7 linked regions of the Homo sapiens genome follow. The protein of the gene in region 6 purifies or fractionates together with the protein of the main gene of each other region. This does not show direct contact. Each region holds a gene or a part of one and is shown on either strand. Other genes may lie near its edges. The genes, in order: FAM83C, SPTAN1, CPNE9, SYNRG, HACE1, NEK4 and CORO1C.

The links.
Region 1: the proteins of NEK4 (region 6) and FAM83C purify together in Homo sapiens (affinity purification with mass spectrometry; one large-scale study listed by BioGRID and IntAct). This does not show direct contact.
Region 2: the proteins of NEK4 (region 6) and SPTAN1 purify together in Homo sapiens (affinity purification with mass spectrometry; one large-scale study listed by BioGRID and IntAct). This does not show direct contact.
Region 3: the proteins of NEK4 (region 6) and CPNE9 purify together in Homo sapiens (affinity purification with mass spectrometry; one large-scale study listed by BioGRID and IntAct). This does not show direct contact.
Region 4: the proteins of NEK4 (region 6) and SYNRG purify together in Homo sapiens (affinity purification with mass spectrometry; one large-scale study listed by BioGRID and IntAct). This does not show direct contact.
Region 5: the proteins of NEK4 (region 6) and HACE1 purify together in Homo sapiens (affinity purification with mass spectrometry; one large-scale study listed by BioGRID and IntAct). This does not show direct contact.
Region 7: the proteins of NEK4 (region 6) and CORO1C purify together in Homo sapiens (affinity purification with mass spectrometry; one large-scale study listed by BioGRID and IntAct). This does not show direct contact.

Annotation. Positions count from the first base shown.
Region 1 is NC_000020.11:35,289,626-35,293,600, reverse strand, and holds the start of FAM83C (protein FAM83C), read left to right. Parts: upstream 1-1,175; 5' UTR 1,176-1,296; coding exon 1,297-1,809; intron 1,810-2,962; exon of another isoform or gene 2,963-3,198; intron 3,199-3,975. UniProt on the Homo sapiens protein: May play a role in MAPK signaling.
Region 2 is NC_000009.12:128,559,087-128,562,586, forward strand, and holds part of SPTAN1 (spectrin alpha chain, non-erythrocytic 1), read left to right. Parts: intron 1-3,500. UniProt on the Homo sapiens protein: Fodrin, which seems to be involved in secretion, interacts with calmodulin in a calcium-dependent manner and is thus candidate for the calcium-dependent movement of the cytoskeleton at the membrane.
Region 3 is NC_000003.12:9,717,333-9,720,832, reverse strand, and holds part of CPNE9 (copine-9), read right to left. Parts: intron 2,805-3,500; coding exon 2,623-2,804; intron 2,384-2,622; coding exon of another isoform or gene 2,359-2,383; coding exon 2,231-2,358; intron 1-2,230. UniProt on the Homo sapiens protein: Probable calcium-dependent phospholipid-binding protein that may play a role in calcium-mediated intracellular processes. Plays a role in dendrite formation by melanocytes.
Region 4 is NC_000017.11:37,606,619-37,610,873, reverse strand, and holds the start of SYNRG (synergin gamma), read left to right. Parts: upstream 1-1,455; 5' UTR 1,456-1,518; coding exon 1,519-1,595; intron 1,596-4,255. UniProt on the Homo sapiens protein: Plays a role in endocytosis and/or membrane trafficking at the trans-Golgi network (TGN). May act by linking the adapter protein complex AP-1 to other proteins. Component of clathrin-coated vesicles.
Region 5 is NC_000006.12:104,765,920-104,769,419, reverse strand, and holds part of HACE1 (E3 ubiquitin-protein ligase HACE1), read left to right. Parts: intron 1-3,500. UniProt on the Homo sapiens protein: E3 ubiquitin-protein ligase involved in Golgi membrane fusion and regulation of small GTPases. Acts as a regulator of Golgi membrane dynamics during the cell cycle: recruited to Golgi membrane by Rab proteins and regulates postmitotic Golgi membrane fusion.
Region 6 is NC_000003.12:52,750,441-52,753,940, reverse strand, and holds part of NEK4 (serine/threonine-protein kinase Nek4), read left to right. Parts: intron 1-42; exon of another isoform or gene 43-415; intron 416-1,604; coding exon 1,605-2,009; intron 2,010-3,500. UniProt on the Homo sapiens protein: Protein kinase that seems to act exclusively upon threonine residues. Required for normal entry into proliferative arrest after a limited number of cell divisions, also called replicative senescence.
Region 7 is NC_000012.12:108,658,519-108,662,018, forward strand, and holds part of CORO1C (coronin-1C), read right to left. Parts: intron 402-3,500; coding exon 220-401; intron 1-219. UniProt on the Homo sapiens protein: Plays a role in directed cell migration by regulating the activation and subcellular location of RAC1. Increases the presence of activated RAC1 at the leading edge of migrating cells.

The sequences.
Region 1 (3,975 bases), on a different chromosome or scaffold from region 6:
GTCTCAATTAAAAAAGAAAAATGGCCAGGTGTGGCGGCTCACACCTGTAATCCCAGCACTTTGGGAGGCTGAGACAGGAGGATTGCTTGAGGCCAGGAGTTCAAGATCAGCCTGGGCAACATAGTGAGATCCCATCTCTAAAAAAATTTTAAAAGTAGCCGAGCATGGTAACATGCACCTGTAATCCCAGCTACTCAGGAGGCTGAGGTGGGAAGATCGCTCGAGTCCAGAGAAACTGAGGCACAGCTGTAGTGAGCTGTGATTGCGCCACTGCCCTCCAGACTGGGTGACAGAGCAAGACCCTATCTCAAAAAGAAAAAGAAAAAAGACAAGCTCCAGAAGCCTACGGACACCTTCTGGATGAGAATTTCCAGGAGGGTGGGGCCCGGGGATCTGCATTTCATCACCTCTCACCACCCCTGGGGTCAGGGTGAGAGCCACTGCTCTAGGTTCTTGAAGGACAGCTCCGAGCCGGGGTGGGAGAGAGCCAGGGGGCTGTGAGCACCACAGTTAAGATGATGGAGAGTGGCAGGACGATTATGGGAGCAAAAAGAGGGCTGGCTGGGGGACAGACCAGCGTTGATGTCCTTGGATATTCCATGTGACAGTCGTTCAGCTCTCAGGGCCTTGCAGACTTGAGCCAGGGCACGTGCTATCCACTGTGGTATGTGTTGTGGGGGTCATGGCCGGTCTCTACATCGGCGTTTGGGTGAAGAGTTTATGCAAGTGGATGTGATTACAATGTGTGGTCGGTCTGTGTCAGCCCACACTCCATGTCTGTGTATCGGTCAGTTGTCAGTGTGTCCATCTGCATGGGTGTTCATGTCTTTTCCTGGGTGTCTTGAGTCGCTCACCCACCTGCAGTGTGTGTGCGTGTGCGTGTGAGTGTGTGTTCCTGAGTCGCCTGGGCCCCTCTTGGCTGTAATTCAACCTCTGTGGGTCCCGGGAAGTCAGCATTTGGAGACTTGCTGGGAGCCTGGTGGGGATGGGGCGGCGTTGCTGGGAGGAAGAGAGGGAGGCAGGAGTGTGCACCGAGGGCCTGGCACTGCCGCTTCCCTGGGCAGGCGAGTCCCAACACAGGCAGACAGGTGGGGCTGACCTGACAGGTTCCAGAGGCCAGGGGCAATAGGGTGGAGCGTGGCTCTGATTTAGGGTGGCAACAGTTTGGGGGCCCTGCCACACACACAGCGAGCGGGCGGGCAGAAGGCGGTTCTGCTGGTCTCCTCTTCCTGCTGCAGCCAGCCCAGCGTGCGGGCCATGGGCCCTGCCGGCGGGTGAGGCAGCCGCGTGGCAGGCATGTTCGGAGGCCCGGGGCCTGGGGTCCTGGGAGCCCAGGGCATGGCGGGACCCCTGCGGGGCCGGGTGGAAGAGCTGAAGCTGCCGTGGTGGCGGGAGAGCTCACCGCTGGTGCTGCGGCACAGCGAGGCGGCTCGGCTGGCGGCCGACGCCCTCCTGGAGCGGGGTGAGGCTGCCTACCTGCGGGTCATCTCCGAGGAGCGGGAGCTGCCCTTCCTGAGCGCCCTGGATGTGGACTACATGACCAGCCATGTGCGCGGGGGCCCTGAGCTCAGCGAGGCTCAGGGGCAGGAGGCCTCCGGGCCAGACCGCCTCAGCCTGCTCTCTGAAGTCACCTCAGGGACTTACTTCCCCATGGCCTCTGACATAGACCCCCCAGACCTGGACCTGGGCTGGCCCGAGGTGCCACAGGCCACAGGCTTCAGCCCCACCCAGGCTGTGGTCCACTTCCAGAGGGACAAGGCCAAGAACATCAAGGACCTGCTGCGCTTCCTTTTCAGCCAGGCCCACACGGTAAGGGCCTCATCTCTCCATCACTCATCTCACAGAGGAGGAAACTGAGGTCCAGAGAGGGAAGGGACCAGCCCAAGGCCACACAGCGACTTAGGGGCAGAATGAGGACCAGCACCTCTGGCACTATTAGATTGCAAACTCCTAGAAGGGGGACATCCCATATTTACCTTGGCAACTGCTTGGTACCCAGGAATAGTATGGATGAGCATAGAACAGGGCATGGGTGTCAGGGACTCCACAATCCCCTGAAATGCACACGAAGTGGTGCAGGTTGGAGGGAGGAGTCCTCGCTGCATCTTTACCTTGGAAGATGCTCCACTGCCTTAAATCAGATTCTCAAAAAGTTTTATGATCCCCACACTAAGAACTCCAACCTTGGGGAACATCTGAGTCACCTCCTTCACTTATAGAAGAAGAAACTGAGGCCAGAGAGGGGCTTGGGACTTGCCCAGGGAGGTCCATATGGTGACATAGAGCTCAGGGCTTGGGGAGACAGGGGCTCTCTGACTTGGGTCCTGGGGACCAGTCCGGCCCTCCTTGCTGGCTCAGGTCCCTAGTTGCCCCCTACCCTCCTGCACCACATCTGCAGCTGGGCCTGAAGCAGGGGAAGGGGCCAGCGTGTGGGCCTCTTTGGCGTGGCCTTGAGGGCTGGGCTTTGGAACCAAGGAGGAAGGAGGAGAGGAGGCTGCTGGGCTCAGTGATGGGGAGCGGGAGCTCAGGAGAAAGAGAATTGGGAGGGCAGGTAGGGGTGGTCAGCACCCAGAAAGGCTCTGGCCACACACGAGCACAGCTTCCCTTCTGAAGCCCTGGCCTCCGACTCCAGGGGAATGGACGAGATGATCCCTGGCAGGGTTTGAGGGAGAGTTAGGCTCCTGCTGCAGAGATGGGAAGCCAGGATGCTGGGATCCCACCGGTACTTCCAGAGCCTCCCTGGCAAGCCTTCCTGTGCCCCAGGCAGGGGACGGCCAGGCCTGATTGGCATCAGGAATGGGGTTATTAGTGAGGCTGCTGCTGTCGTCCTCCTCACCCCTGCCTCTTTGATCTTCCTGCCTGTCCTTGTTCCCCCACCCTGGCCAGGCCTGTGCTGTGAACTAGGGCATCCCCCAGTGCCTCGCCTTCTCAGCCCCCATTTAGACCCCTCTATCCTGGGTCAGGAGCCAGGTTCGTGCACTGGGCTGTCATGACTCCTAGTGACCTTGGGAAATGCTGCGTTGCCCTGCAGCCCAATGTTTATAGAGCTCTGTTATGTCTTGAGCATTTTCACATTTAATTCCCTGTAACTCTGAGACATGGCTATCATTATCTCCATTTAACAGATGAGGAAGGTGAGGCTTCCAGAGGTGAAGGGACTCACCCAAAGCTGTGTCACCAGGAAGTGATAGAGTCCAGGTTTGAACCCAGTTCTTTCTGACTCCAGAGCTGGAGTGCTATGCTCTGTACCTCCTGCCTCTCGGCCCTGCCTGGGAGAGAAGACTCTCATAGCAGATATATGCCATGGGAAGAAAGGCCAGCTGGGGGCTGGGAGGTGCCAAGAAGGTTTCAGGGGCCTCTTTGAGGCAGCCCTTTATATGGGATGGAGGCACAAGCCCCAGCCCAGCCCTCAACTGAGCAGAAAACTTGGATCCATTTGGCATGGGTGCAAGTAAGGGAGTCTGCAGTGTAAGGGGTCACACCAGACCTCTGTGGCTTCACAGGGAAACTGAGGCAGGACTGGGAAAGGGCAGCGAAGACCCCAGTAAGTGGCTTGTAGCTGTGACCCTGGAGAAGGGAGCCTCAGACAGACAGTCCCTGGGTCAGAGCTGGGCTGGAGTTAGTCGGGGGAGTGCCAGGAACTTGCCTGGGAATTGGGGTCTGGGTTCTCCTTCTCACTGCTGTCCCATCTGGGGCTCAGTGCAGAGGGAGTGTTGGACTAGCACAGCTGATCCACAGTCATCTTTGAGAATCTGATGATGGATAAACACTCGGTGCACAGAAGGATGCACACAAATGCTTTCAAACAGCTAGGGGTTCAAGACAGTCAAATCTGGGCTGGGATTTGACTGTAATCCCAGTGCTTTGGGAGGCTGAGGTGGGAGGATCGCTTGAGGCCAGGGGTTCAAGACCAGCTTGTGAGAACCCCATCTCTACAAAAAATTAGAATTAAAAAAAAACTAGCGACTGGGCGTG
Region 2 (3,500 bases), on a different chromosome or scaffold from region 6:
TTTCAGATACCCAGCTCCCCAGAGACAGCCTGTTGTGGCTTGGCAGACCTCCCACCTACTGACGTCAGCTGATCTACTGCAGGAAAGAAAAGTCCATTATTGCCTGACCAAAGCACTTGGTATAGAATTGACTCGTTCTACTTCACTGGGGTGACAAAGAGGGCCTTTTAGGTTGGTTAATTTCAGCAGGGCCTTGCTGAACTGTCTCTCTGGATTGGCAGGATCAAATCAGCAAGCTGGGCCCAAGCAGGGGGACTTGCTCAGATGGAACCTTTGCGATATTATGATGGAGATTTTCTTATCATAAAGGGCTGTTCCCAAATGTGATTTAATTTCTGTAGCAGGTAAAGGATTTTAGAAATGCAGTGACTCCTGTGATAGGAGGCAGAACAGCACCATACACTCGAATCCTGGAGACTGCCATCTCTTTCAGGAGCTCGTGTGCAGTGTCGTTATTGTTCCATGTGTAACTATGCCTTCCTTGGAAAATTTCTTTACAAGAAAATTTTGGAAGCAAACAAATTAGATGCATAATTTCTCAATGTTTTTCCATCTTAACTGTTTCCTGAGGGTTGAGAACAAAGGAAATATATAAATAAATAAGTCTAACCCTAATTGTTTACCAAGACTCAATCTTAAATAATTTTGATTTTTTTTTTTTTTGAGACGGACTCTTGCTTTTTCGTCGCCCAGGCTAGAGTGCAGTGGTGCGATCTTGGCTCACTGCAACCTCTGCCTCCCGGGTTCAAGCGATTCTCCTGTCTCAGCCTCCCAGGTAGCTGGGACTACAGGCGTGCGCCACTATGCTTGGCTACTTTTTGTATTGTTAGTAGAGATGGGGTTTCACCATGTTGGCCAGGCTGGTTTCAAACTCCTGACCTCAGGTGATCCACCCGCCTTGGCCTCCCAAAGTGCTGGGATTACAGGTGTGAGCCACCCTGCCTGGCCGATAATTTTGATTTTTAAGAAATGATTAATACATCCACATCCACCTCACCTTTTTTTTTTTTTTTAAGAGACAGAGTCTCGCTCTGTCGCCCAGGCTGGAGTGCAAAGGCGTGATCTTGGCTCACTGCAACCTCAGCCTCCCGGGTTCTGGCAATTCTCCTGCCTCAGCCTCCCAAGTAGCTGGGATTACAGGCGCACGCCGCCACACCTGGCTAATTTTTTGTATTTTAATAGAGACGAGGTTCCACCGTGTTGCCCAGGCTTGTCTCGAACTCCTGAGCTAAGGCAATCCACCCCCTTCAGCCTTCCAAAATGCTAGGATTACAGGTGTAAGCCACCGTGCCCGCCTTTTTTTTTTTTTTTTGACACGGAGTCTAGCTCTGTCACCCAGGCTGGAGTGCAGGGGCTTGATCTCAGCTCACTGCAAACTCCGCCTCCCAGGCTCAAGGGATTCTCCAGCCCCAGCCTCCTGAGTAGATGGGACTACAGGCATGTGCCACCACACCCAGCTAATTTTGGTATTTTTAGTAGAGACAGAATTTTATCACGTTGGCCAGGCTGTTCTCAAACTCCTGACCTCAGGTGATCTGCCCGCCTCGCCTCCCAAAGTATTGGGATTACAGGTGTGAGCCACTGTGTCTGCCTCACTGTTTTTTCACTCCAAAGTGCAGATGTGAAAAGGAACTAATAAAGAGGGAGTGAAGGCCGGGTGCTGTGGCTCACGTCTGTAATCCCAGCACTTTGGGAGGCTGAGGTGGGTGGATCACCTGAGGTCAGTTCGAGACCAGTCTGGCCAATATGGTGAAACCCAATCTCTACAAAAGTACAAAAATTAGTCGCGTGTGGTGGCGGGTGCCTGTAATCCCAGCTACTGGGGAGGCTGAGGCAGGAGAGTCACTTGAACCTGGGAGGCGGATGTTGCTGTGAACCCAGATAGCATCACTGCACTCCAGCCTGGGCAACAGAGCAAGACCCCATCTCAAAAAAAAAAAAAAAAAAAAGAAGTGAAAGGAACTAATAAATAACCAAACAGCCATCAATAAATAATATGTCGGCCAGGCACGGTGGTTCACGCCTGTAATCCCAGCACTTTGGGAGGCCGAGGCGGGCGGACCACAAGGTCGAGATCAAGATCATCCTGGCCAACATAGTGAAAGCCTGTCTCTTAAAAAGAAGAGAAATACAAAAATTAGCTGGGCGTGGTGGTTTGTGATTGTAGTCCCAGCTACTCGGGAGGCTGAGGCAGGAGAATTGCTTGACCCTGGAGGCGGAGGTTGCAGTGAGTCAAGATCGCACCACTGCAATCCAGCCTGGCGACAGAGCAAGACTCCATCTCAAAAAAAAAAAGGCCAGGCGCGGTGGCTCACGCCTGTAATCCCAGCTCTTTTGGAGGCCGAGGCAGGCAGATCACGAGGTCAAGAGATCGAGACCATCCTGGCTAATATGGTGAAACCCCATCTCTGCTAAAAATACAAAAAATTAGCCGGGCGAGGTGGTGGATGCTTGTAGTCCCAGCTAGTCGGGAGGCTGAGGCAGGAGAATGGCATGAACCGGGGAGGCGGAGCTTGCAGTGAGCCGAAATTGCACCACTGCACTCCAGCCTGGGCAACAGAGCGAGACTCCGTCTCAAAAAAAAAAAAAAAAAAAAAAAAAAGAATATGTCAATATGTCAACTCTAATCATGTTAAGAATCACTGTGTCTATTGTGCCATATTCTGGGAACCGGAGGATCCCAGGTCATCCTGGCCTTTGCAACTTGCTTACTAAATTACCTGTCTCCCAACTACTTAATTATAAAACGATGGCAGTTTCTTTATTTCCAAGCTCTGAATATAATTGGATCTATAATATGTGCCAAGTCCTGAGTTCTGTGCCCAGAGAGTAAGAGTAAAATATGGTCTTCTTTAGAGTTCCTTAAAGGACTTATGAATGTGGTAGGGAGAACACAATAATTTCATGGCAGAATGTGGCAGTGTTATAAGATGAATGATAGAGGTGGGTGGTCAGGGAGTGGAGACTTCTGATTCAGAAAGACTTCATAGAGGACGAGGCATTTGCTTTGGACTCAGAGATCTGTATGATTTGTTTTTTATATTTTTTATTTTTTTGACAGGCTGGAGTGCAGTGACGCGATCTGGGCTCATCACAACCTCCGCCTCTCAGGTTCAAGCGATTCTTCTGCCTCAGCCTCCCGAGTAGCTGGGGCTACAGGCGCGTGCCACCACACCCGGCTAATTTTTGTATTTTTAGTAGAGATGTGGTTTCACCATGTTGGCCAGGCTGGTCTGGAGCTCATGACCTTGTGATCCACCTGCCTCGGCTTCCCAAAGTGCTGGGATTACAGGCGTGAGCCACCGCGCCCAGCCGAGATCTGTATGATATTAGATGGTAGGGTTGGGAGTGGGAGAGGAGAGTGCACTCCTGGGAAAGGGAACTTTTTGAGCTTTCAAATGGACCCTGTCCAGGACCTGTAATTGGTGTTGGTGAGGGAGCTTGACATGAGATACGGCTGGAGGAGACAACTGGAAGGTGACTGAGTGAAGTCTTGTTTA
Region 3 (3,500 bases), about 43 Mb from region 6:
CACACTCAATGGTGCATTGCCCCTTTACTGAATGTTTACTAAATGAATGAATAAATTTTGAATTAGTGTAGTTGCATAAGATAATATTTAAGAAGTCAGCTTAATAACAACAAAAACATGCTCAGGTTCCAGTATTAGTGAAAAAAAAATCAGTAGTGAAATGTTATATGTATAATAATTTGACTATAATTATGGATACATAAGGAAAAGAACTGTATATACATCCACATTCCATGGGCAGTATTCAGGGTGATTTCTTCATTTCTCTATTGAAACTTTCTACGGTTATGATTAAAGAATCTATTATCATTACTGCAAATTAGAAAATAAATCTACTAGAATTAATACCTGAGTGATGAAATAATCTGTACAACAAACCCCCATGTGTCACATGTCTCAAGTTTGTTATGTAACAAACCTGCACATGTACCCCTGAACTTAAAAGGAAAGTTAAAAAAAAAACAAATCTTCGCTAGGGGAAAAAGTCTATGGACATATAAATCTCACTGAAATCCTTTCACTTTTATTCCCTTTTTGTTTAATCTTTTTACTTCTGAGCTTTCTGAGGGGCTTTGTGTTAGCTGGGTTTCTTCTGTTTACTATAAAGTGGGGTTTGCTTATTTTTTGTTCAATCAAATAATCTTTTTCTTTTTTAAGGTCAAACAGAGCTTATTTATGTTTATTGACATATGTTTGATTTTAGTTCTGTCATTTCATAAATTCGTTTTAAGTTTATTTTAATACCCTCTGGTTTTTTAAGCCATTTGATGTATGATCTGGGTTTTCTTTGGTTTGTGTGTGTGTGTGCATATATATATATATGTATATATATATATTTTTTTGAGACAGAGTCTTGCTCTGTCGCCCAGGTTGGAGTGCAGTGGTGTGATCTCGGCTCACTGCACCCTCTGCCTCCCAGGTTCAAGCAATTCTCTGCCTCAGCCTCCCAAGTAGCTGGGATTACAGGTGCCCACCACCACGCCTGGCTAATTTTTGTATTTTCAGTAGAGACGGGGTTTCACCATCTTGGCCAGGCTGGTCTTGAACTCCTGACCTCATGATTCACCCACCTCGGCCTCCCAAAGTGCTGGGATTACAGGTGTGAGCCACCACACCTGGCCTGCTTTGTATAGTTTTATTCTGAAAATTTGGACAGTCACTCATCTAGTTTTTAACTTATCATTTATGGAGCATGTACCATGGGCCAGACACTGTGCTAATACTTGTTACACTATTATCTAATTTTAACCTTGCAATAACTCTATAAGGAAGCTGCTATTGTCATCCATTATGACACCACCTTACAGGGATGAAATGGATGCTTAAAGAGGCGAAGTTGCTTAAGGTCAGATGGTTAGTGAATGGTGGAGGAAGGATCCCACTCAGATCTGATGCTAAAACGTACGCCTTCACCACAGTGCTGTAGGCTCTTCTCTCTCTTACCCAAACTCAAGCCCCAGCTTGTCATTCTCAGGCAGTGGGGTTAGGGTAATTTGCTGACACCCTTTGTGCCGCATAATAAGGTACAGTCATCCCTCAGTATCCACGGGGGATTGGTTCCAAGACTCCTGTGGATACCAAACTCCTCAGATATTCAAGTCCGTCATATAAAATGGTGTAGTATTTGCATATAACCTATACACATCGTCCTGTATACTTTAATTTTTTTAATTTAAATATTTAATTTAAAAAAATGAGCCAGGCATGGTGGCATATGCTTGTAATCCCAGCACTTTGGGAGGCTGAGGCAGGTGGATCACTTGAGGTTGGGAGTTCAAGACCAGCCTGGCCAACATGGTGAAACCCCGTCTCTACTAAAAACACAAAAACGAGCCAAGTGTGGTGGCATGCGCCAGTAATCCCTGCTATTTGGGAGGCTGAGGCAGGAGAATTGCTTGAATCTGGGAGGCGGAGGTTGCAGTGAGCCGAGACCATGCCACTGCACTCCAGCATGGCAACAGAGCAAGACTCTGTCTCAAAAAAAAAAAAAAAAAAAAAGAGATGGGGTCTCACTAAATTGCCTAAGTTGGTCTTGAACTCCTAGGCTCAAGTGATCCTCCTGCCTCAGTCTCCCAAAGTGTTGGGATTACAGGTATGAGCCACCATGCCTGGCCTCTCCTGTTTACTTCAAATCATCCTAAATTACTTAGAGTGCTCCTGACTATCCTTGGGGGGTCAATCCCTTATGTGGGTCCCCTCATTTCCCCCAGCTTCCACCCAGTTCCCTTACCTGGCCACTTGGTTGATGACAGGAGCAAAGTAGGTGGGCCCATAGAGCTGCACTGTGCGCAGGCTCTGGAAATAGCTCTCCAGCACACCCTCGATGCCCGCACAGTTGGGGTCCTCATCATTGTTGTTCTGTCAAAGAATATGCCCTGCCAGGCTGAGCCCATGCAGGGTACATGCAGGAGTGCTCTGATTCCAGCTCACTCCTTCCTTTTTCCATCAGTCCCTTTCATGCTCCCCTCCAAACCCAGCCCTGCTCCCCTCCCTGCTCTGCTATCCTCTCATAGCTTCCTGTTCCTCTACATGCCCTTTGAAGTAATGTAAACAGAACAAAATCATCAACTTGGGTGAACCAGATGCCAGGGCACGGAGGGTAAGCTCTGGCCAATACCATACCAGGGGGAACTGGTGGGAGATCCGTCCCTCTGGGGGCAGCTTGGCCCCAAAGCCATAAGCTGGGAAGAGCTTATCACTGTCATAGTCCTGGATGATCTCTCCCACTGCCTTGAGGGCCATGGCATAGGCGCTGAGCTGGTAGGGACTCATGTAGTGCAGGGAGGTAGGCTGCAGAGGATTCCCTGTAGGGACACAGGAACCCCAGCCTCATGATCATCTGGATCATCCATCTGTTCACCTGCTTATCTTTGTGTGCATTCATCCACCTATATCCATTTATCTGCCCTCTACCCATGTCCTCCCTCCTTATTTTACCCAATCATCCATTTGTTCATTTATCCATCTATCCACCCACCCATCCCTATATCTATTCATCCATTTACCTACCTACCCACACATCCATCCACCCATCTACCTAGCCATACATCTATCTTTCAGTCTACTTATACATCTTTATCCACCAATCTCTCCATTCTCTTATGCAGCTATCCACTTACCCACTCATCCATCCATCAGTCCATCCATCCATCCATCCATCCACCCACTTGTCTACTTGCCATTTTTCTTCATTTTCCACCCATCTATACAACAGTATTATTTTATCCATCCGGCTAGCCAGCCCTCTCCATTCCATTCATTCCCTTGTCTATTCTCATATGGATCTATCCACTCATGCATTTCCCCTAATTACTTGTTATTTCCCCAACTTAAACTTTAGTCCATTTGTCCACCCACATACCCATCGATGCATCTACTTGTCTAACCTATTATACTCACCAACCCATGTACCCACTCCATTTGTTCATGGATCTATGCATCCATTCATGACTCACCACCTGTTCACCTCTCCATCTCTCCTTATACCCCCTTTCTCTCTC
Region 4 (4,255 bases), on a different chromosome or scaffold from region 6:
GGAAGGGAAGGAGTGAAATTAGTGAACAGGCAGTTACAGCAAAAGAAAAAACATAAAAATTGAATAGCTGGCTCTGGTGAAATGAGCAAGGACTTTAGAGTCAAACTGGCCTGGATTTGAATCCTGATCCTCATTGCTTGTAGCTGTATGATCTGGACAAATGACAGTAACTGTTTCTAACCTTGATTTTCTCATCTGTAAGATGCCAATTGTAACTCCTAAGGATACTGAGGATTTTTTAAAATGCGTGTACAGTTCCTGACCAGTGGTTTGTGCCTAATAACTTATTACAAATTATTACCCAGTAAAAACCTTGAGACAAGAGTGAAAACGTAAAGCTAATTAATCCATTACTTGTTAGCAAGCAAACTACGTGCTTGAGAAAATTACTCAACTTTCATGTTTTACTTCCAGACAGTAGTTTGATTAAAAGAAAAAAAAAAATCACAGCCCAGGCATGTGGCTCACACCCTGGCACTTGGAGGCCGAGGTGGGAGCATAGCTTGAGCCTAGCAGTTTGAAACTAGCCTGGGCAACATAGATCCTATCTCTACAAAAAAAAAAAAAAAAAAAAAAAAAAAAATTGGCCCGGTGTGGTGGTGCATGCCTGTGGTCCCAGCTACTCAGGAGGCTGAGGCGAGAGGATCGCTTGAGCCAGGGAGGCTGAGGCTGCTGTGAGCCATGATCATGCCACTGCACTCCAGCCTGGACAACAGAGCAAGACCCTGTCTCAAAAAAAAAAAAAATCAGTAAAAAATATGCCGAAATAGCTTCAGAGTAATTATGAATTGCCTTCCAAAAACCACTGTTTTGCACTTGCCTGCAAGAATAGGAAAAACAAAAGGACTGTAAGGTGGCAGGATGGCAGAACCAAACAAGAGTAGTACACCTTGGAGTTTTTTCGAAATATGGGTTGGGTTTTTGGGCTCTTGGTTGATTTAAAATAAAATTTAAATGCCTTCAGCGTCTGTGATAGGTGCCAACATGAAGCTACCGAGTTCCAGAGAAAGAGGGGAGAGCTGATCACTCATCAGTGCTGCGAGACTATCAAAGGGCCCTTCAGGACCTATCTGTTCTTTGTGTGTAAAGAGTAACAATAAAAGAACACCAGTGTACCCACCGTATAGTTTAAAAATCAGGACTCAGCCTACTCTTTCCACTAACCGCGATCATGGTTTTCAAACGGAGGACCAACGGCGCTTTGCCACTGGGCCGCCAGCTGGGCCCTGCAGAGGGCCTACCAGACAATGAATCAGCTCCCTTGGAGAGGCGCCCGCGACCGCCCCACCAGCCCGAGAGCTAGAATTGAATCTGGGGGACCCCTGCGGCGCCGGGTCACGTGCCGTGGGCGCGCCACGCCTCCCCGAGGGCCGGGGGAGTCACGTGGGCGCGAGGCCCCGCCCCATCGCCCGGTCCGCGGCGAGGTGGGGCCTGGTGTTTGACCCGGAAGTGGCTGTGTTCAGCTGACAGCTGCTGATAAGGTGGCGGCGGCGAAGGCAGCGGCAGGTCGGGAGCAAGATGGCGCTGCGGCCAGGAGCTGGTTCTGGTGGCGGCGGGGCCGCGGGAGCTGGCGCGGGGTCCGCCGGGGGAGGCGGGTAGGTGTGAAGAGCCGGGCGGGAGCCCGCTGGCCTCCGCGGGGGCGGCGAGGGGCGCTTGGCAGTTATGGCAGTTTTCTCCAGCCCTGATCCTTTTCCTTGGAACTGGGCTGCGGGAGGAGGGTCATCCCCCAGGGACCCAGGCCGAAAGGGGCGTGTGGAGCCCAGGTGCTGGACGCTGGTGTTCCGGGATCAGTTGGGGGCGCCGGCCGCCTGGAATCGAGCGGGGAGCGAGCGCGCGCCCAGTGTGGGAGGGGAGAGAAGATGAGGGTCCTCTTGGGGTGGGGGGGGGCGGGGCAAATCAGGAACCGCGACTCCGCTCCTAGTCCTAGCTGCCTCTGAAGCGACCAGGGTCTTCCCTTTCCTTGGGCTTTCTAGACTTAACCGGATATGTTGGAGGGAGGGCTTTAAAAATCTGTTCACAAAGCTGGAGGACTGTTTCCAAGGGGGGTGTGTGTGTGGACTATTTGTCTCTTCCCCTTTTAGAGTGTCCTGTCCTCTTTATTTCCTTAACCCGCGACAAACAGCAGGAACATCTAAAGACCTCTGAATTAGTAATGGTCTTGAGATAGAGTTCTTGTCTTGTACACTAACTCTTAAGACTTGTCTGTCTTCTTTTTAAAAAGGCATTTAAAAACAAAGAAAGTGCACTGTTAAACAGCAGTTGCGCATTTATTAGAACAAAGCTTCCAGACTCAGCCCTTAAACAAATCTGCCCTCTGCCACATTTCAGCCAAGAACTGCCGTGGTTCTTATACCCAGAATGGTAAGGGAGATGTACGTTTTACAAGCTGACAGATTCGTTATCATTTAAGGAAATATTTTATTCTAGGAAGTTTTCACTCCACTTCTATAATGACCTAGTCTGATTTTGTTTTACTAACCAACACACAACAGCACACACATTTGGAGGTAAAAGTAGCTTTGCATCTTCAGTATCCTAAATTGTCTTTGGAAAACGAAGTGTTAGGTTTTTTTTTTATATGCAGTGTTTCAATTTCGGAGTCGTGAACACTACAAAAGTGTAAGGACCTTAAAGTTATCACCTCTTGCAGGTGCTTGTCAGGAAACGAGCAGTGGCTGTTCAATAAACCACCTGTGTGTAACCCCATTTTTCATTTCCTCTGCACATCTTTAACTTTAGATTTTTAAACTTTTTGCTTTCTCTTTTGTTCTCTCCGTTGTTTCATTAGAGGGTTTTTTAAAAAATAAATACTTCGTGTAAGCCAGTTTCTGGCTGGAGAAGAAACATATGTAATAATTCCCTTCTATTTGTTTTTTCTTTTTCTTTTGTCTTGTTTTTTTTTTTTTTTTTTTTTTTTTGAGAGGAAGTCTTGCTCTGTTGCCCAGGCCAGAGTGCGGCGGCGTGATCTCGACCCGCTGCAACCTCTGCCTCCTGGGTCCAAGCGATTCTCTTGCCTCAGCCTCGGAGCAGCTGGGATTACAGGTGCGCGCCACCATGCCCGGCTAATTTTGTTGATTGATCGATTGAGACAGAGTCTCGTTCTGTCACCCAGGCTAGAGTGCAGTGGCACGATGTCGGCTCACTGCAACCTCGACCTCCCGGGTTCAAGCGATTCTTCTGCCTCAGCCTCCCAAGTAGCTGGGATTACAGGCGTGCGCCACCACGCCCAGCTAATTTCTGTATTTTTAGTAGAGACGGGGTTTCACCATGTTAGCCAGGCTGGTCTCAAACTCCTGGCCTCAAGTGATCCGCCCACCTTGGCCTCCCAAAGTTCTAGAATTACAGGCTTGAGTCACCACGCCCGGCATCCTCTATTTATTTCCTATATGTGATTACAGTTTCTAAAATGTCCCTGGATGGTATTAATTTGATCAAGTATATGATTAATCATGGCACCAAGTTCTGGGAAAATGTAAACTTAGAAGAATTGATATCTAGGCCCAAATTTTTATTTACTTAAAAAATGTTTTTGGATGGGGAGGACCTCAGGTTCAGAAATTCAAGTGCATTATTCCCTTTAGTTTGCAGTATTTGAGTATCATTGGTCCATGGACACAAATTTTTAAAATAAATATGGGTTGAATTTTGATAGAAATTAGAATGATTTTAAAATTTCCCCCCTTTGTAAATGTAGCAACATCTGCATTCTAAAACTGTAAACGATATACAGGAGAGAAAGAAGTGGTTAAAATGATTCTTACCTTGAAAAATGTATGGTACATATGTTACATATATTGGCAACTTTCTGAGGCTGAGAAGCTGTATCCTCAATAGAAAAAGGAATATTATTTTTTTTAGAGAGTAATGGTGTAAAGGCTGAAGTTATTTTATTTCCTTTTTAATTTTCTTTTTGCCACCCACCCTCCCTGAAATTATTTTATAAGGAAACTTAACATTATGGCAACCTAAGTATATTTGAAGAAAAAAAACAGGCAACTTCTCTACACCTTTAATGGAGAAAATCCATGAACTATAACTGACTGTATTGTTTAGATACTTCTCTATATTCTAAGAGGCTAAGCAAAACACAATAACGTTTTCCAAATTTAATATTACCCTACTTTTGATTGGTGTCCTGGATGAGCTACTTTAGAATAAATGGTAGAGTTGTATAAAGGGCAAAATTTGCCCAAGAGATGAGAAGTATAAATTTTTTTTTTCTTTAATCAAGGCAGAAAAAAAAAAGAGTTGAAAG
Region 5 (3,500 bases), on a different chromosome or scaffold from region 6:
CTTTGATAAGAGAACCATAAACATGATTCTTATCTGTGAATACTATATCTGGTGAGGTTTGTCACTCCTTTCAGATATATATGACAAAGTGGAAAGATCTAGTAACAATTGTATTCCAGTGCTTTGGGAGACTAAGGCAGGGGGATTGCTTGAGGCCAGGAGTTCGAGACAAGCCTGGGCAACATAGTGAGACCTCATCTCTATAAAAAATAAAAAAATTAGCCAGGCCTAGTTTTGTGTGGCTACAGTCCTAGCTATTCTGGAGGCTGAGGTGGGAGGATCACTTGAGCTCTGGAGGTTGAGGCTACAGTGAGCCAAGATGACATTACTGCCCTCTAGCCTGAGTGACAGAGCAAGATCCTATCACTTAAAAAAGAAAAAAAAATGTGTATGAGGTATATCTATATTTATGCTTGCATCTCCTAGCAGCACCCCCCCTTACTATGACATGATTTTTGTTTAGATTTTTAAAATATTATTAATTTTTTTGTATTTGTGTATTTTAATGAAATCTAGAAAGATGGAAAATATTGAATAAATAAGAATAAGTAAGAATATGCTCACATTGAGGATATACCCTTCATTGTGCATCTCACCAGAGGTGGGAATACTATTTTAATATTAAAGAGCTTGAAACTTTTGTTTCTCAGTTTAATACTATATATATTTACATTTTGTTTAATTGCTTGGTTGATTAGAGGCTAACTTTTTTAAGTAATTAGGAGTGTTAATAGCAGGGTCTTGATTATTAATGTTATACATTCTCAGCTTTCATTTTTTTTATATAAACATTTCTCACAATAAATTGAGCCTTTTTTTTCTAATGTTACCAGTATAGTAATTGTGTATCAAATTGTTGAGGTTTCAACATATAATGCTTATTTAATAAATAACCTGATTCATATAAAACTCTTAAAAATCTTTAGAAACACATCACATTTTACCTTGCTTAAAATTGTTAAGATATTCAGTTTACAAAATGTTACTTTAAAATTTTCAAACCCTGTTTCTTGGAAATACTATTGATTTTTGGTTTGTTCTTTTTTTTTGCTTATACATTCTGTTATGAACTTTTCTGTTACTTTAGAGTCAGCTTTTTACTTTATAGGTAGAAAGTTTTTTTGTCATGTTTAGAGTTCGACTTTATAATTTTGAACTATTGAAACTTAAATGACTTGCTAAACTTGTTAGAGGGCCTTTGTAAACTGATCTCCACATGGGGGAGTCCCTTATTCCCAAGTTTTATTAAAAGGCTTTGGTGATTATAAAGTGAAACCAAATAGATGAAAATACCTTTAATTTAAAAAGCAATATGTTAAATAAATACAAGCAATATAGGCAGATGTATATATATTAGTTCCACATTTGAAATATAATACTCTTAAATTAGTTAGATATGGCCTCTTTTGCTCATATTTTCAGTTCTAGCATTTAGAATTGAAGCTGTAGGGGTTTAAATGTTAGCATCACTTTTATAATATTAGTCATAAAGTTCATCCAGGCTTGGAGAAAAAAAAGAAGATAAGAGTAAGATGGGGCAGGTATCAGGGAATGGATGAAGTGGTATGGAAGTTGAATTATAGAGGTGAAGCATTAAGTGGTCGAGTAGGAGTAAGGATGGGAAGAAGGAAATGTTCTGGGCTTACAGGAAGGCACAGAGGTGACAGAGCATGCTTTGGGAAACCACAAGTAGATCAGAGTTGTGGAGCTTAGCTTAGATGGAAAAGTAAGCAAGTAGAAAAAGATGATGTGGGGAAGGGAGAAAGTGGCCAAATTCTGAAAGACTTTGCATCCACAAATAGTACTTTGAAAATTATTCTGAAGTCTGTGGAGATGATTGCAGATGTTAAAGAGGGAAATGACATGATCAAATTTCAGTTAAGAAAACAAAAAGAAACAACCAAACTCAGCTTGGAGTGTGAAAAATGGGTTGAAATGGGGCGGTACTAGAGTCAGGACAACTGAGAGGAGGCTGTGGCATTTTGGTTTGGGGAAGCATGCATGAAGAATTATGTAAGGCAAGTGGCAGTGAAGATGGAGAAAATGGAATAGCTTTTAAGCTTTTGAGGATAATAGAATTTATAGAACTTGGTAATTGGGAAGATGAGAAAGAGGAAGGACTCAAGGATAACTGCCACTGTTGTGGATTGGGCCACCTAATGTCTGATAGTGTTGCCATCATACTCTTCATCAACCTCATTATCATTAATTCTGTTTTTTAGTGATAATAATTACTACTTATTGAGTGCTTTGTGTTTCATGTATCTGAACCATGTTCTTTATGTTTCTCATTTCCTGTAACAGCCTCTTGAGATAGCTATTTCTCTTTATTTAGTGTGGAAACAGCCTTAATATTAAAACATTTGACATTTATTAGGTTTTTATAATGTGCTAGGCACTGTTTGATGTGCCTTATGGGTATTATACTTAACTCTGTGAGGTGGAGATACCCCTTTCTACAGGTGAGGAAACAGAAGCATATAGGAGCTAAGTAGCTTTCTCCATGCAGTCTGTAAATTTCAAGCCTGCTTGTGCAGGGGCCATCCAGTCTTCTCTGTATGGTTCCAATATTAGTATACGTGCTGCTGAGACAAGCACTTGAGCCTGCTTGTAACTACAACACTGCATTTCTTTAGACGTTAAATAACTGCCCGAGGGCACAAAACTTGTAACTGATGTTTTCTTATTTTAAATGGATGTCTATAAGACAGTGTAACTGCTAGGCTTCTCATTTACTAAGGCAGTGAATGTGAACAAAGTAGCAAATACAAATTTAGTATGTTTTAACGATTTCATTTTAATATGGTTTTATTGCTAGTCTTATATGATTAAATTTTTAGTGCTAGCTTTGCATGATTTATTTAACATACACATTTAATGCACATACAAGCACAAAATACAGACTTTTATCCATAGATTATTGACTTAAAGTGGATTCTTTATATGCATCTTTAGAAAAGTATACAGGTTGAGCATCCATAATTCAGAGTACCCCAGAGTCTGAAACTTTTCGAGTACTGACATGAAGCCATAAGTGGTAAATCCCATACCTGATCTCATATGACCAGGGGGCACTCAGAACACAAGCATACAACATACAGTTGTTTCAGCATCCCCAAAGGAAAAAAGACCCTCCCAGCCCCCTTCTGCTGCATATATATTTTTTCTTCAACACACCAAGATTCCATCATGCAAGCATGCCCACAAGGGTAATAAATGACATGTGCAGGACGCATATGCCAAGAGCAGGTTCCCCACTGTGCCCCACGTGGGGCCAAGGCCGATGTGCATTTGTGCATTACTCATGTCTTTTCTTTTCTTTTGCTTATTTTCTGCTCTGTGGTGCAGAGGTATTGTTGGGAATGTCAAAAAGGCCTGCAGATACCCCTGTGGGTAACAGTGACAGGGAAAAGAGGGAGCATTTGTCTTTATCCGTAGCACAGAAAGTCAAGCTGTTGGAGAAACTGGACAGCAATATAAATGTGAAATGTCCTACAGAA
Region 6 (3,500 bases):
GCCTCGGACTCTCAAAGTGCTGGGATTATAGGTGTGAGCCACCGCGCCTGGCCTAAATATGCCATCTTGATAAAGTCTGTGCCCTATGAATATTAGTCCAAACCACTTTAATACAGAGGGATAAGATGGCTGCACATAGACACCTAATAACGTCTGCTCCGCAACCAAGGTAAATTCAGCAAGAAGAGAGTATTTCAGGTGGACGAGTCTGTAGGAAGCATGCATGCCATTTGTTGACTGTGCTGCTGGGACAGGCTCCGTAGGCTTAGTTATGGGCAAAGCATTTTTGGGAATAGAAGGCAGCTGTTTCTTTGGCATAGTTCATCAAAGACTGGTTTTTGCATCCCCTGCCAATGTTTTCAGCTTCAGATCGTTTCCATGTAGAGCTTGTAGACATGCTCCAGAAAGAGTACATAATGTGTACTCCAAACAAAGAAATTCAGTAGTATGTCATCAGACTCTTCCGTCCTCAGCATTCAATTTACCAGCCTTCCGGGCATTGTGCCTCACCTCTGTGCCTTCAATGTAGAGTTCCCAGCTGCCTATCACCTTTGTGGCCCAGCGGCATCTCTGGCCACAGTGCCAGTCCTGCCCCTGCTTGCTCCCTGCCCTGTCCTGGCTTACTTCTTTTCTTTTCTGAGACAGGATCTCAACTGTGTCAACCAGGCTGGAGTGCAGTGGTGTGATCACGGCTCACTGCAGCCTTGACCTCCCGGCTCAAGCAATCCTCCCACTCAGGCTTCCAAGTAGCTGGGACTACAGGCACTTGCCACCATGCCCAGCTAATTTTTTGGTATTTTTTATAGAAATGGGGTTTCGCCATGTTGCCTAGGCTGGTCTCAAACTCCTGAGCTCAAGTGCTGGGATGATAGGTGTGAGCCACCACACTTGGCCTGGCTTATTTTACTTAGCATGTTTTCAGGGTTCATTCGTGTTTTAGCATGTATCAGAACTTCATTCCTTTTTATAGATTAGAAATATTCCATTGTGTGTGTGTGTGTGTGTGTATATATATATATATATTTTTTTTTTTTTTTTTTGAGGCAGGGTTTCACTCCTGTTGCCCAGGCTGGAGTGCAGTGGCGGGCTCTCGGCTCACTACAACCTCCGCCTCCTAGGCTCAAGCAATCCTCCCGCATCAGCCTCCCAGGTAACTGGGACTACAGACATGCACCACCACACCTGGCTAATTTTTGTATTTTTAGTAGAGATGGGATTTCACCATGTTGCCCAGGCTGGTCTCAAGCTCCTGGCCTCAAGTGGTTCACTTGCTTTGGCCTCCCAAACTGCTGGGATTACAGGTGTGAGCCACCGTGCCTGGCAGTATTTACCACATTTTGTTTATCCCTTCATCTGCTGATGGACTTTTGGGTTGTTTCCGCCTTTTGACTATTTTAAATAAAGCTGCTGTAAACATTGGTGTACAAATACTTAACTTAAATCCCTGCTTTCAGTTCCTTGGATTACATACTTAGGAGTGGAATTGCTGAGTCATATGTTAATTCTATGTTTAACTTTTTGAGGAACCTCTTGTTGCATTTTGAGTTGATTTTGTATAAGATATGAGGAGTGCTATAATAATTTCCAAACATCTTTTCATTCAGGGTGAAGGCAAATGTTTGTCCCAGGAGAAACCCAGGGCCTCTGGTCTCTTGAAGTCACCTGCCAGTCTGAAAGCCCATACCTGCAAACAGGACTTGAGCAATACCACAGAACTAGCCACAATCAGTAGCGTAAATATTGACATCTTACCTGCAAAAGGGAGGGATTCAGTGAGTGATGGCTTTGTTCAGGAGAATCAGCCAAGATATTTGGATGCCTCTAATGAGTTAGGAGGTATATGCAGTATTTCTCAAGTGGAAGAGGAGATGCTGCAGGACAACACTAAATCCAGTGCCCAGCCTGAAAACCTGATTCCCATGTGGTCCTCTGACATTGTCACTGGGGAAAAGAATGAACCAGTGAAGCCTCTGCAGCCCCTAATCAAAGAACAAAAGCCAAAGGACCAGGTGAGTGATATGCACACATGAGATACTGGTTTTGGAGAGAAGACTGAAAGTGCAGTTACAAATATGTGGGTTCTGTTGTCATTTTAGGAAAATCAGTAATTCTATGTATCAGTTTAAACATAGAAGAATATTTGCATCAAACCAAAAAGAAACCCAGTACCCTATAACAGTCACTCACCATTCCCTCTTGCCCACAACTCGTGGCAACATTTGTCTCTATGGATTTGCCTATTCTGAGGATTTCATATAAATGGAATCATACAATTTATGGCTTTGTGTGTTTGGCTTCTTTTTTTCTCTTTTTTTTTTTGAGACAGAGTTTCACTCTTGTTTCCCAGGCTGGATTGCAATGGCGCGATCTCGGCTCACTGCAACCTCTGCCTCCTGGGTTCAAGCAGTTCTTATGCCTCAGCCTCCTGAGTAGCTGGGATTACAGGCATGCGCCACCACGCCCAGCTAATTTTTTTTTTTTTTTTGAGACAGAGTCCCACTCTGTCGCCCAGGCTGGAGTGCAGTGGCGTGATCTCGGCTCACTGCAACCTCCGCCTCCCGGGTTCACACCATTTTCCTGCGTCAGCCTCCCGAGTAGCTGGGACTACAAGCACCCACCACCACACCTGGCTAATTTTTTTGTATTTTTAGTAGAGACGAGGTTTCACCGTGTTAGTCAGGATGGTCTCGATCTCCTGACCTCGTGATCTGCCCATCTTGGCCTCCCAAAGTGCTGGGATTACAGGCATGAGCCACCGCACTCGGCCGATGCCCGGCTACTTTTGTGTTTTTAGTACAGACGGGGTTTCTTCATGTTGGTCAGGCTGGTCTCGAACTCCCGACCTCAGGTGATCAGCCTGCTTTGGCCTCCCAAAGTGCTGAGATTACAGACATAAGCCACTGGGCCTGGCCTGCCTTCTTTTACTTAACCTGATGTTTTCAAGGTTTATCTATGATGTAGGATGTACCAACATTTTATTCCTTTTTTAAAAAAATTTCATTTTTTAATTTTTTGAGACAGGGTCTCTGCTGCTCAGGCTAGCGTGCAGTGGTGCAAACACAGCTCACTGCAGCCTTGACTTCCTGGGCTTAAGTGATCCTCCTGCCTCAGCCTCCTGAGTAGCTGGGACCACAGACATGCCCTGCTAATTTTTTTATTTCTATTTCTTGTAGAGAGATGGGGCCTTGCCATGGCCATGTTGCCCAGGCTGGTCTCAAACTCCTGGGCTCGACAGTCCTCCCAACTTGGCCTCCCAGCGTACTGGGATTATAGGCATGAGTCACTGGACCCTGCCTCATTCCTTTTTATTGCCAAATAATATACTGTATTTGTATTTGTGTGCCTGTGTGTGTGTGCATGTGTGTGTATACACACACATATATGTATTTTTTGTTTGTTTGAGTCTCACTCTGTCACCCAGGCTAGAGTACAGTGGCACGATCTCAGCTCACTATAACCTCTGCCTCCTGGGTTCAATGATTCTCGTGCCTCCGTCTCCC
Region 7 (3,500 bases), on a different chromosome or scaffold from region 6:
TACAAAGTGAGAGACTTGAGTAAAAGCTGGAAAATTTACAACTCTGGAGAGAAGCACAACTGGGGAGACAGAAGCCTTTATAAGCCTTCTCTTATTCACAGTTGGTGTCTACACACAACAGGGTCCCACTGACCAGTACCGCTGCCTGCCTTAAAAAGCAGAAAGCTCACACTCACTCAAGTGCTCCAACTACTGAGTTTTCATCCTAGGAATACTCACAGCAACAATCTCTTGTTTCCTGGGATCAATGACTCTCACTTTCTTGTCTTTGGAAGCTGTGCAGATCAGACTGCCATTCCGGTTCCAGCTCACATTGTAAATCATGTCTGAATGCATATCGTCCAAGTTTATAAGGGCTTCCCCTGTTCCCACATTCCAGATGATAATGGCATTATCACAGCCTAAAACAGGCAAAACCATCAGAGATTAGAAGATTAGAAACACCTATGTAACACACTCAGAAAACTACAGATACAGTGAGAATACACATATGTATATGCAGAGAGAGAGAGAGAGAAAGAGAGAGAGAGAAAAGATGCGGCTGATTGTCAGAGGCCCTACCAGAGGCCCTACTTACTAACAGCGTTAAAAACTGAAGTGACAAAGGAAAAAGTTTGTATAAAAGAAATAAAAGTGTTAAAGTAAAAACACAACTTGTTAAGTTTGGGTTCATATGAAACAATCAACCAAACAAAAACAAAGAACCACACCAAAACAGAACCCTATTTTCTTTAAAGAGTTAACTGGGCTGGTAGACCCAAGTGACTTCAAGTTTCCCTTTCTAGTAAAACAAGCATCAGGGTGTTGCTGCCAGCTTTGGGAGACCCCTATTAGGCAAATACGCTCCTTCCTTTTAAAGAAAACTTTGATTTTCCCCTGCTATACAATTAGTACATGTATACTATAGAGAACATATATAAACAAAAGGAAAAAAAATCACTTTTAATCCCACCACTCAGAGAGAAGATCATTATTACTTTTTTGATGTTTCTTTCCGAAAGATATTTCTGTGCACATACATAAATTATTTTACATACAGAGATGGGTTCATACACTTTACACATGGGCTGCTTTCTGCACTTGGTGGTAGGCTGTGACCCTTTTCACGTGCCAAATAAACTAAAAGTAAAAGGTTTAAATGACTGTTTAGGGCACTCAACAAAAACTCTGGGTGGCAGGTTATTCAAATCAGTGAGACTCTAAGACACAGCTTTGGGATATTAAAGATGGTACAACAGTGGAAGGGAAAAGCCAAGAGTAAGGCCTGTTTGCTCACAACAGATCTGTACCTTTAAATGAAGAGAAAAATAGGCCAAGACTGCTCTGATCATGGTGAGAAGCCCAAACTGTAATCAAGTAGCTACATAGATTCAGAAACGGATTCTGAAAGAAGCCCACAATGTCAACTCATTCACCATCTCAGCTCACCAACTCCTTCCTTCCTTCAAGGGTCTGCCCCACGCCTCCAGGCCCCTTTAAAAAGAGGCAGCATGTGTTGCTCCTAGGATGTTAGTTCAAGGATGAAGCAAAATACGGGAAGGACATCCTAGAGGTGGATTCTTGCCAACAAAGCAATTTGGAAATCATTTAGAAAAAATAGTCACTAACATCCAGGATACTTAAGTTACCTAAGGGTTAGAAGTAGGAAACTGGCCGGGCACGGTGGCTCACGCCTGTAATCCCAGCACCCTGGGAGGCCGAGGCGGGCAGATCACCTGAGGTCAGGAGTTGGAGACCAGCCTGACCAACATGGAGAAACCCTGTCTCTACTAAAAATACAACATTAGCCAGGTGTGGTGGCACATGCCTGTAGTCCCAGCTACTTGGGAGGCTGAGGCAGGAGAATCGCTTGAACTCAGGAGGCGGAGGTTGCGGTGAGCTGAGATCATGCCATTGCACTCCAGCCTGAGCAACAAGAGCGAAACTCCATCTCAAAAAAAAAAAAAAAAAAAAAAGAAGTAGGAAACTGGAGAAAAAAACTACACAACAGTAACAAAAGTTGAAGCTAAACTCTGGGATGGACAATTGAACCTTCCTCTGCCTTCTTCCCTATAGGCAAACAGGTAACTTCAGCCCCGGCAGCTGGATCATATAGCCTAAAAATATGCAGAACACGACAATCACCCATTCTCCTTCACATGTAAAAGGGAGAATGCAGACCAGTCTGTTGCTGCTGCCCTGTATTGAGCCTTGATGAGAAAGGTAGCAGGGAATTTTCCATGAAGGAATTCCAGCTCTGGAATTTTTTTCCTCTCCTTAATCAGACTGAGGTTCTGAGAGAACATCAAAAATGATTCCCAAGTATAGTCGATGGTGATTATAAAAAACATGGCATCTTTTTTGAAAAGTGGGCCTTAGTTTCAATAGTTACTTGGCATTATAATTTTTTATTTAACTCACTATGAGTCATAAACATTGTGTATTCCCAGTTAAAAACTGAACTGCCCCTCCTCCTTTTTACTGGTGAGGGGAAAGACCTTTAAAAATCCTATCTCTAACATTAGTATCACTTTTTAAATAAACCACTTTTATTAAGGTATAACTTACATACAATACAATGCACCCATTTTAAGTATATATTTGCTAAGTTTCAACAAATGTATAAACTCATGTAGCCACTACTATGATCAAGATACAGAATATTTCCATCACCCCACAAAGTTCCCTCATGCTCTCTGTATTGCTTTCATAAAAGAAAATGAAATCTCCAATTTTAGATAAAGGAAAAGATTTCTGTACAACACCAGTGTCCAGAAATAGGGGACTTATCAAGTAAAATGAGGTATATCCAGAAAATGGATTAGTATGAAGTCATTAAAAATAGGAAGAGAGCTTAATGGCACGTGAAAAGGGTCACAGCCTACCACCAAGTGCAGAAAGCAGCCCATGTGTAAAGTGTATGAACCCATCTCTGTATGTAAAATAATTTATGTATGTGCACAGAAATATCTTTCGGAAAGAAACATCAAAAAAGTAATAATGATCTTCTCTCTGAGTGGTGGGATTAAAAGTGATTTTTTTTTCCTTTTGTTTATATATGTTCTCTACAGTATACATGTACTAATTGTATAGCAGGGGAAAATCAAAGTTTTCTTTAAAAGGAAGGAGTGTATTTGCCTAATAGGGGTCTCCCAAAGCTGGCAGCAACACCACAGAGGGAACACAGGGCTTCTGGCTCCCAACAAAGTACACCTTCTACCATATCAGAAATAACCAAAACTATGGTTCATGGAGGGCCCTGGCAGGAACCATGAAACCTGCTGAAATTATAGCAGGAAATTCATAGCTTTCCTCAGGTTGTCGAAATGGCCTTGAAACACACACACGTGCACACACACACAAGTATGTATGTGGGCTGGGGGAGCAGTGCACCCCAATACTCTTCACCATGGTTTCCTAATAATCTGCTTTAAAACCATATAGCACACAACCAAAACACATTTGCTTCCCCCCACTCAGAGAGCCACAAGAGTGGAAGACAAGGGGAGGACCGCTGAGCT